Linked DNA regions of Homo sapiens: region 1 is linked to region 2. Evidence: fine-mapped expression QTL. A gene starts in region 2. The other region holds a variant in brackets. All regions are shown on one strand. Distances are from middle to middle. Region 1 has its middle 12 kb from the start of INO80D. Region 2 holds the start of NDUFS1 (NADH:ubiquinone oxidoreductase core subunit S1).

Region 1 (5,381 bases), 62 kb after region 2:
TCAAAAAAAAAAAAAAAAAAAAAAAAGGAAAAAGAGAAGAGGAGAAAGAGGAGAGGAGAAAGAAAGAAAGAAAGAAAACAAAACTACATAAACTGTCTGTAATAACACATTTTGACATCATGTACTCCCTGATAGGACATCATGTCTGAGATTCTTGCCAAAAATATATTAACTCATCTAATCATGAGAAAACATAAGACAAGCCCAAACTCAGGGACAGTTATACCAAGTAACTGACTAGAACTCTTCAAAAATGTCAAGGTCATGAAAGACAAGGAAAGATTAACTCTCTGGAAGAGAAAAAGGACATTAGGTCAAATGTAGTGGCTCATGCCTGTAATCCTAGGACTTTGGGAGGCTGAGGCAAGAGGATCACTTGAATCAAGGAGTTCAAGAGCAGCCTGGGCAACACAGCAAGACTCCATCTCTACTAAAAAATAAAAAATAGCCAGGCATGGTGGTTCAAGTCAGCAGTCCCAATTACTTGAGAGGCTGAGGTAGGAGGATCACTTGTGTCTAGGAGTTCAAGGCTGCAGTGAGCTGTGATTGTGCCACTGCACTCCAGCTTGGCAACAGAGTGAGAACCTGTCTCAAAAAAAGAAAAGAAAAAAGAAAAAGAACATTAGTGGGAAACTGGTGAAATCTGAATATGTCTGTACTTAACAACAAGATGACAATAAGATACACTTGAATTATTTCTCTCTAGAATTGGGCTAGTCTATGTAATCTTAAGCAATTCACTTGCTAGTACTTGTTTTTTCCAATTGTTAAGATGAAAAGTGTCTGTAATGTGCTTTAAGATTCTTAGCTGAAATAGTAACAGTTATGTTGCTTACTGTTTTCATTTTAATAATTCTATTTTCCTTTAAGGGAGCTTAATTTTGGAAGAGTTAGTGTGCTTCAAGAGCCTTTTTTTTTTTTTTGACGGAGTCTTGCTCTGTCGCCCAGGCTGGAGTGCAGTGGGGTAATCTCGGCTCACTGCAACCTCCGCCTCCTGGATTCAAGAGTTTCTCCTGTCTCAGCCTCCCGAGTAGCTGGGATTACAGGCGCACACTACCACGCCCAGCTACTTTTTTGTATTTTAGTAGAGACGGGATTTCACCGTGTTGCCCAGGCTGGTCTTGAACTCCTGAGCTCAGGCAACCCAGCCACCTTGGCCTCCCAAAGTGCTAGGATTAAAGGCGTGAGCCACCGCGCCCGGCCTGCTTCAAAAGACTTAACATGCAGTCCGCGAGGTGGCTCACGCCTGTAATCCCAGCACTTTGGGAAGCCGAGGCGGGCGGATCACTTGAGGTCAGGAACAACCTGACCAACATGAAGAAACCCCGTCTCTACTAAAAATACAAAATTAGCCGGGCGTGGTGGCACGTGCCTGTAATCCTAGCTACTCCGGAGGCTGAGGCAGGAGAATCCCTTGAACACAGGAGGCGGAAGTTGCGGTGAGCCAAGATTGCGCCATTGCGCTCCAGCCTGGGCAACAAGAGTGAAACTCTGTCTTAGAAAAAAAAAAGACTTAACATGCCACAACATTATAATAATTTTGATGCAGTAGTATAGATTAATGAAAGTAAATATATGCTGGGCATGGTGGCACATGTCTATAATCCCAGCTAATTGGCAGGATTGCTTGAGCCCAGGAGCTCGAGACCAGCCTGGGCAACGTATTGAGACCCTGTCTCTACAAAAAGAAAAACAAAAAAATTAGCCATGCATAGTGGGGCACCTGTGGTCCCAGCTACTCACCGCTTAGGAGGCTGAAGTGGGAGGATCACTTGAGCCTGGGAGGTCGGGACTGCAGTGAGCCAAGATCTGCACTCCAGCCTGGACAACAGAGCACGACTCTGTCAAAAAAAAAAGAGTTCTTTTTTCTTTTTGAGACGGAGTCTCGCTCTGTCTCCCAGGCTGGAGTGCAGTGGCCCGATCTCGGCTCACTGCAGGCTCCGCTCCCCAGGTTCACGGCATTCTCCTGCCTCAGCCTCCCGAGTAGCTAGGACTACAGGCGCCTGCCACCTCGCGCGGCTAATTTTTTGTACTTTTAGTAGAGACAAGGTTTCACCGTGTTAGCCAGGATGGTCTCGATCTCCTGACCCCGTGATCCGTCCGCCTCGGCCTCCCAAAGTGCAGGGATTACAG[A/G]CGGGCACTTGCACCCGGCCGATTCATTGAGTTCTGTACTGAAAGACAGAATAGTTGTATGGTTACCATGGTAAAGCTGAAAAATCCTAAGTCAAACCATGGTAAATCAGGGACCATCTGTACTAAGTCGTCCAGTTTTTTTTTTTTTTTTTCTTTTGAGACACAGTCTTGATCTGCCGCCCAGGCTAGAGTGCAATGGCACGATATTGGCTAACTGCCACCTCCGCCTCCTGGGTTCAAGCAAGTCTCCTGGTTCAGCCTCCGGAGTAGCTAGGAGATTACAGGTGCCTGCCACCACGCCCAGCTAATTTTTGTATTTTTAGTAGAGACGTGGTTTCACCATGTTGGCCAGGCTGGTGTCGAACTTCTGACCTCAGGTGATCCACCTGCCTCAGTCTCCCAAAAGTGTTGGGCTTACAGGCGTGAGCCACCGTGCCCGGCCCAATCTTCCTGCCTCAGTATCCAAGTGATGGGATTATAGGCATGAGCCTCTGCGTCCAGCCAACACTTCATTGTAAAATGACTTTGTGTTTAATGATTCTGCCCAGTTGTAGGCTATTGTAAGTGTTCCAAGCTCATTTAAGGTAGGCTAGGCTAAGCTATGATGTTTGGTGGATTAGGTACATTAAATGCATTTTTTATTTAAGAATATTCCCAATTCGCAATAGGTTTATCATGATGTGACCCCATAACACCTGTACATTGTGGAGGCTTTTTGTTATTGGTTTGGTGTTTGCTTTTTGCTTTTATTTCAGAATAAGGAGTTAGCATGTGTGACATAGTAAGAAATAGATATATATGTGTATATATATAGAGAGAGAGATATGTATATATATGTGTATCTATCTATCTATCTATTTGGACTTTGTCCCTGATTTTTGACACAGAGCTCTTAAAACTGCCATTTCTTGAGTGATAGGGATGATAGGAGCGTCGTTTGTTCTAATATTTGGTCTCTGTCCCCAGTTTCCGACACAGAGCTCCTTAATCTCTTGGAATTTCCTGGTTGATAGAAGCATCTTTTGTTCTACTGAGGTTTCTTGCTGGGGCCCTAGATAGCTTCAGGATGGGGCCTGGTCACCAGAAAGACTAGACCTTGATGAGAAGCCTGGAACTTTCAGCCCATCCCCTCAATATGTGGGGAAGTGTGAAGAGCTGAAGACTGAGTTAATAATTGGTCATCCTGATTTGACAAAACCTCCATAAAAACCCCTAATGACAGGTTCAGTGAGCTTCTGGGTTGGTGAACACATCAAATTGCTAGGAGGGTGGTGTGCCCAGAGAGGGCGCGGGGCTTCCAACACCCCTGCCAATATCTTGCTCTCTGCATCTCTTCTGTTTGGCTGTTCCCAAGTTATATCTTTTATAAAGAGCCAGTAAATATTAATATAAGAGTGCTCCTGAGTTCTGTGAGTCATTGTAGCAAATTATCAAGCTGAAGGGGAGAAAGTTGTGGGAACTCCCTGACTTTGTACCCAAGAAGTGTGTGTGGGTAACCTGGGGACCCAATACTTGCGAATGGCATTGGAATTGAGGACTCTTTAAAACCTGTGGAGTCTGCTGCTAATGCTGGGCCGTTAATGTTAGAATTGAATTGAATTGTAGGATACCCCGTTGGTGTCCGGAAAGTTGGAGAATTGGTTGGTGTGAGAAAAAATTCACACATTTGATGTCAGAATTTCTGAGGAAAAATAGCTCGGCATGTAAAACCATAAATACACAAAATCCTTTCAGACAGCTTAAAAGAATGCACATGTTCCAAGTTTTCTGAACTCAAGTCAAGATAAAGAGATAGAAGCAAAAATGAACTCAGTAATGTATTACTCTAATAGTTTGATTCAGAGAAAATAAAAACTCCCTTCTAACAGGAAAAAAAAAAGACAAATGGCCTGCATAGTGCAGTTACGTGAGCTTTCTAATAATGCAAACGGCAGTCTGTTATTTCCCTACAATTTTTTTTCTTAGCTTCATTTCAGAGAGGACACAAACCGTAGAAATTGAATGATAACTTATCATATCATTGATCATCATTGTATGAAGTGTTCAGTTTGCAGCTCATAAATTTAGGTAACATCATTTTTCCCCTCCTCCTCAATAGAGAGAGACATAATGGTTACTGTCTAGCTCAACGCTGGCTTAACGGCCTCCTCTGAGGTTAATGTTAACATCATTCTGGACAGGGCAACAGGAAGCATCTGTATATCTTACCACAAAATGAGATGATCCATTTTCCCCCCATTTGAAATATAAATTCTGTTGGTATTAAATTACTTAATTGCTCTTGCTTTATATATACATTTAAAATATTTAGATATATTGTAGTAATAGCCTTAGAGAAAATTAAAATGACTTATGATTATGTAAATATTCCTTTAGTTTTTCCCAGTTGGTCAATATAGGTTCTTATTTTTTTTCTCTCTATGATTTAAAGGAAACTTGGGTTATGAAGGCTATTCTTACAATCTTTTTTTGTTCTTATGTTCTAGAACCACTGATGGTGACAACAGAACTCAGGGAATGTTAGTCAATTAACAGCTGCCAAGTTACCCAGAGAAGCAGATGGTATATCTGATCATGTCCTACAAAATGTGAAAAGGGAATACTCAAAGATGTTTGCTCAAATATGCTAGAGTTTCCACACAAAAGGCTATAATGGCAACCATATATATTTTTACATCTTCTATGTTTGCTTTTTACTCCAGGTGATTCTCTTATATTCCATTTTTAAATTTTTTGACCTGTACGGCTAGTCATCTTAAAATAACCTAGGATATGCACACGTTTTAAGTATCTTTGGCAATAGAAATGCACAACAGAAATATGTCAATAGAAAAGAAAAAGAATACTTAATACCACTCCCAGGTTTTTAAACTAGAGTATGGCCAATTGGAATATAATGCTTGAGGGTGGCTGAAATAACTAGAATTACACAGATATTTTGCTAATCATCTTGGACTTTTGTAGTGAGATGGTTAGAAAGTCCATGCTCAATTCCTCAGAGTCCTTCTCATTTAACCATCTAAAAGCCATACCTTAATTATCAAATAGTAAAGAATCCAAAATCTCAAATATTCATTAATCCAACAAATATTTACGGTGTATATTTCATCCCAGGCAGTGTTCAAGAGGCCAAATGAACAAACTAGACAAAAACAAAACAAAAAAAGACAAAATCTCCAGGCTTCGTGGAGCTTATATTTTCAAAAGCTTATATTTATAAAAGCTTACATATCAAGAGGATCTATATA
Region 2 (5,381 bases):
AATCCATCACGAACTCAGCCGAAAGATGGTGATTTGATTTTATTCATCATGCAACCAGTCAGAATTTGAAAAAGGCATATAAATTAAAGCCAGGATTCAAATCCAGGCAATTTGGCTTAACCACATTGATACAATTGCTGATCGATGTATTCTTTTTTTTTTTTTTTGGGACGGAGTCTCGCTCTGTCGCCCAGGCTGGATGCAGTGGCACGATCTTGGCTCACTGCAACCTCCGCTTCCTAGGTTCAAGCAATTCTCTGCCTTAGCCGCCTGAGTAGCTGGGATTACAGATGCCTGCCACATTTTTTTGTATTTTTAGTACAGACAGGGTTTCACCATCTTGGCCAGGCTGGTCTTCAACTCCTGACCTCGTGATCCACCCGCCTCAGCCTCCCAACATGCTGGGATTACAGGCATGAGCCACTGCGCCTGGCCGATATGTTCTTTATAGAAGACGCCATACCTCCTCATCATCAGATCCAAAGAGGTCAATGTCATCATCATCTTTACTATCTGTAGCTCCACTTCCTGTAGTGTCTTCCACATCGGCAGGACCATATTTGCCCAAAGCTTTCTTCACTCCTGGCAGGCTTGAAAAACATTTAAATTCAACCACTATTGAGCTAGTATAACATCCTTTTCCAGAAAATACAAAATAACTTGTTTTAATCACTACTTATCACTAGATCCCTTTTGCAATCATAATTTACCCTTTCACATGCGCCCAGGTAAACACTGTCATATGTTCAACTCCTCACCCGACAAGCATTAGTACCATGTGAGACATTATTTTCAATACTCACTATGATTTACTCTTTCAGTATGAACATTTCTGTTTGAGATTTCATTAAGTATGCTCAGTTCCATTCTTAGTGAACTGGAGTCCACTTCCCCAAACTTCCACCCTTGTTGGCAGTTTCAGAAGAATGGCCAAGGACTGAATGAATGAGCCACCCTCTCACCCCAGAGGTGGGCCCCCCAGGTCAAGGTCGAGGCACATTGGCAGGGCAGTGTGGGGAAAAGTTGAATTGCTGCTGTCCATGTTCTACCTGTTCTGTGAAAAAATGGAGGGCTTCAGTCTCTTGGCCTTCTAAGGTTACAGAAAAATTTAGCTTACAATATCCCAACAAAACTAAAGTAGCCTGGGTCCAGTTTTGTCATGTGAACATCCTGATAAACTTCGAGAGCAGTCTTATTCTTCAGCTCTATACAAAGATGATTTTACCTGGCCTTTTCCTTTTCGTAAGACTTGATGTGATTATACCAACGTAGGGCATGACACAAGTCGGCAGGCGGTGGGCTGGACACGGCTTCAAATACTGCCACATCTGCTTGTGATGGCACATACCTGCCAAGGACACAGAAACATTCACACACACCTTTGAAAAACAAACGCCAGCGAATAAATAATAAATACCGTATGCATCACATTAATTAGTGGGCACTAACCCCAGCAGGGTTGCTTTAATGCTTTTCTTTTCTTATTAGCTCCTTCAAATCAAACCATATGTTTGGGTCACCGCGCTATCCTGAGAAATGTCTGCCACTAAGTAGACCTCAAATACTGCAATGTCTGGCGTTGCTCTATCTACAGCTTAACATGTATTAACTGGGCAGCGATGCGGAAACACCTGGCTGAATTAAGTGTAAATAAAGCACATTTTAACCTTTCCTTGCTCGTGAACCGCTCCCCGGAGGCCGGGCTCGCCCCACACGAGGGCCTTGGGAGACGGCAACGGGGCGCTTTCCCCTCCCTCTCGAAAGGGCCCCGGGCCCGGCCTCCCTCCCTCCCGCGGCAGCCGACACGCTGCGCCACGTGGCCCCGGCCCCGGGCGGAGAAACCTCCCCGCCACCCCGACTCAGCCCGTCCGCTCACCCCTCGATGTAGCTCTTGTCCGCCAGGTAATCGTTGAGCACCTGGAGGCCGGCAGGGCTTTTCAGGTCTCCGAAACCCATGGTGTCGGCTGTATCCGAGAGCTGGGGAGCAGCAGAAAGAGAGCGCGCAAATTGTGGGCGCCCCACGCTGAAGAGAGGAAAAAGGACCCGAAGAGACCGGAAAATTCCTTATATAGAGACGGAGGCGTTTCCCTCCACCGCGCCGGACCGAAGGTTAAAGGTCAAAGTACTTTTGCATTCCCACTTCTCCACGTACGAATTGGGGGCCCTGAATTAAATGGCCCACAAATTGTCCATGGACCTTTCGTTGCGTTTGGAAGTAAATTAATAAAATAGGCATGTCTTAAGTTCGTACCTCCACGGCTCCCGAAGATGACGGGAACCAGCCCTAGAAGCGCCGGAGATGACCGAAGACGCCCGGCCTCGAGGCTGGGGCCACTTCCGGCGGAACTGCGGGTCCAAGTTGTCCTTCCCGCCTCCGGGCTGGGCCGACCTCAGCTCCGCCCTCTGGTCGGCTGACGGAAATTGCCGACAAACTTGTCGAATGCAAGGATTCTAGTCCCTCCGGGCTTTCCGTTCTCCAGGCCCGGCTGACAGAGTTAGCCGAGGCCGCCATATTGAATAAGCGACCCGGCCTCCTAGGGGGTCGTCGTGGTCCAGACAGTTTAGCAGAACAGCCTCCGCGGCTCCGGGGAGAAGGTGAGGTCTTGTATGGATGGGAAGGGTGAGGTGCGTCGGCCAGAGGCTTATTTATTGACGGGACTGTTTCCTTTGGCCCACGCGACGTAGTCTTCTGTTGTCCTTGACTGGGCGCCGCCTCCCGCCCCGCCGCCTCGGAAGCCCCTGAGAGCCGGCAGATGGGGGGCTTTTAGCCACGGTCTCTGGTCTGATGAAGCAGAAAAGAAGATGAGGATCAGGGGGTCCTCGGGAACGCTGTCACGAATGTAGGCTTGCAGGTGACCTTCCCTCTGCAGGGAAAATTCAGGACATTTCCCTCTCAGAGGAGGAGGCCGTTTTATTCCCCGGGAGAGGACCAGTGTCCGATGACTTAGGCCTTAAGACTAAGCCTTTCCCCCCAGATTTTTACACGCCTGATACAGTGCATGATTGTTTGGTCGCTGTTGTGTTAGCAATGGCTCACGCTTCTGTTTGTTGTCCTTGTTTGTTTGGTCCATTGACCACGTTGGACAGCATTTTTTTATTCCTTTAACTAACGGGAAATTGAGAAAAACGACTTTTGAAAAGTTAGCCCAGGATTGCATTGCAAATAACAAAACGTTGTTTACAGGTTATTGGGATCCAGTGCTTGAACTGTAAGGTCTTGGATCAGACACAACTCTGTTCACACACGAATTGACGGTATAGAAGTGTAACGTTAACTGTTTTTGATGAATAAACAAGTTATTTTTGTTTTGCGGAATATTCTTGTTTTCACCGACTTAAGGCTGCCAGAGCACCTGCACTTTTTAAATCCGGGAAAGTGGTCTCTACAAATTAACGACCAGAAATTAGAGATTCAGTTCACTTAACCGTTATTGAACATTTACTACGAGCCAGAAATGAGTCCGTAAAGAAGAATAAAATGGATGATATGCTGGGGGAATCGTAAATGTTAGATAGCCTGGTCAATGAAACTGAGAAAAGGCTTTTAAGCCAAGATTTGAAGGATAAGGAGGGGCCAGGGAAGAGCATTTCAGTCTGAGGTCACAGCCGGTGGCAAGAGGGGAGAGGCTGTGTGGGAATAGTGTGGAAGCTTGGTGACCTGTTAAGCTATTGAAGGCCGGAGGCGGTGGCTCACTCCTGTAATCCCACCACTTTGGGAGGCCGAGGCGGGCGGATCACGAGGCCAGGAGATCGAGACCATCCTGGCTAACACGGTGAAACCCTGTCTCTACTAAAAATACAAAAAATTAGCTGGGCGTGGTGGCGGGCGCCTGTAGTCCAGCTACTTGGGAGGCTGAGGCAGGAGGCTGGCGTGAACCCGGGTGGCGGGGCTTGCAGTGAGCCGAGATCGCTCCGCTGCACTCCAGCCTGGGCGACAGAGCGAGACTCTGTCTCAAAAAAAAAAAAAAAAAAGCTATTGAAATACTCCAGGCAAGGAGTGATGGTGGATTGGGATAGGGTGGTACCTTGGAAGGCAAGAAGTAAATGGATGGATCCATGTTGGAGAACGTGGAATAGCATAGTCCCTATATGGAAAAGTATCCAGTCTAGTTTAAGAAATGATTAGTCATTAACATTTTCCATCCAAAGAGATAATTATTTCTATTGCTACTTGGCATATCAATGTTCAAAGCACATATCGAAGTGTTGCAAATCTGTATTTCTTATGTTGGGCTATGCTTTGTTGCTGGATGTCAACAGTCTAGTTCTAGTTGATTTCCTATCCAAAGTGAGTACTATTTTTATATTGCATTGGAGATAAAAAAGTATTAAAGTTTTAAAATTGTATGAAATACTGATTGTTGATTTCAAATCTGTCAGTGCTCTAATGGAGTAAGTTTAGGTTTATATTTATGCCATCAGTAGTTTTTAATAGGACAGATGCTACTCTAGTTCTAGAACTTGGTGATAAGACTGTTTGGTGGTTATTTTCATAAGGGTCCTGTGCTAGGTCTTCAAAAAAGGGAAATGTCCAAATTCCTTGTCCTCAAGGAGCTTACAGTCTGGTAGGTACTAAAATTGATTACTAACCTACAGTTTAGTAAGTAAAACAAAAATATCTACACAGTGTGTACTGGTACTAAAGAAAAAGAGCTCAAAGAAAGAGTGCTTTAAAATTGGTTGTCTGCCAGGCGCGGTGACTCACGTCTGTAATCCCAACACGTTGGGAGGTCGACGCGGGTGGATCACTGAGGTCAGGAGTTTGAGACCAGCCTGGCCAACATGGCGAAACCCCTTCTCTACTGAAAATACAAAAATTAGCCGGGCGTGATGACAGGTGCCTGTAATCCCAGCTACTTGGGAGGCAAGAGAATTGCTTGAACTTGGGAGGCGGAGGTTGCAGTGAGTCAAGATCACACCATTGCACTACAACCTGGGTGACAGAGTGAGACTCTGTCTCAAAACACACACACATACTGATTGTCAGTGGCCAGTATTGCCTAAGTTGAATTCAGCTTTAACTGGCATTTGTTGAGCCCCTACTAATAGCTCATTGTCTAGGAAGTATTGTTTTCCTCCTGCTCTATAAGTAAAGAACCAGAAACTCATTTACCCAACATTACTCACTAGCAGGAAACAGATTGGATATTTGCAATTTCAGTATCACATATTCTTAATTAATGAAATTTATGAATGAAATTTCCTGTTGTACATCATCTATGATAAGTATGCAGAATTTTGTGCTTAAAACCTATGTATATGTACTATTATTCAATAATACTATTGCAACTATTGAAACTTTAATGTTGAAATTTTTTAATACGTTCTAATCACATAATTTGCCTTTTTTCTTTTTTTTTTGAGACAGGGTCTTATTCTGT

Evidence for each region. PIP is the estimated chance that this variant, and not a neighbour inherited with it, causes the effect. A credible set is the group of variants that fine-mapping cannot tell apart.
Region 1: its variant is the best candidate, but not a certain one, in a credible set for the expression of NDUFS1 in lung (TOPMed, PIP 0.67).

What each region holds. Positions count from the first base shown.
Region 1 is chr2:206,095,030-206,100,410 of GRCh38, reverse strand. No RefSeq gene overlaps it. Among named protein-coding and RNA genes, the nearest start is that of INO80D, 12 kb to the right of the region's middle. The variant A/G (reference allele first, on the strand shown) is at 2,134.
Region 2 is chr2:206,156,555-206,161,935 of GRCh38, reverse strand. It overlaps NDUFS1 (NADH:ubiquinone oxidoreductase core subunit S1), which reads left to right and starts at 2,492. Exons shown (of 19, transcript NM_005006.7): 1 at 2,492-2,595. EEF1B2 (eukaryotic translation elongation factor 1 beta 2) reads right to left here and starts at 2,041. Exons shown (of 6, transcript NM_001959.4): 1 at 1,877-2,041; 2 at 1,226-1,348; 3 at 464-590. The coding sequence starts at 1,956. SNORD51 (small nucleolar RNA, C/D box 51) reads right to left here and starts at 55; the gene lies at 1-55. RefSeq lists a silencer at 1,705-1,774 and enhancers at 2,035-2,294, 2,405-2,814.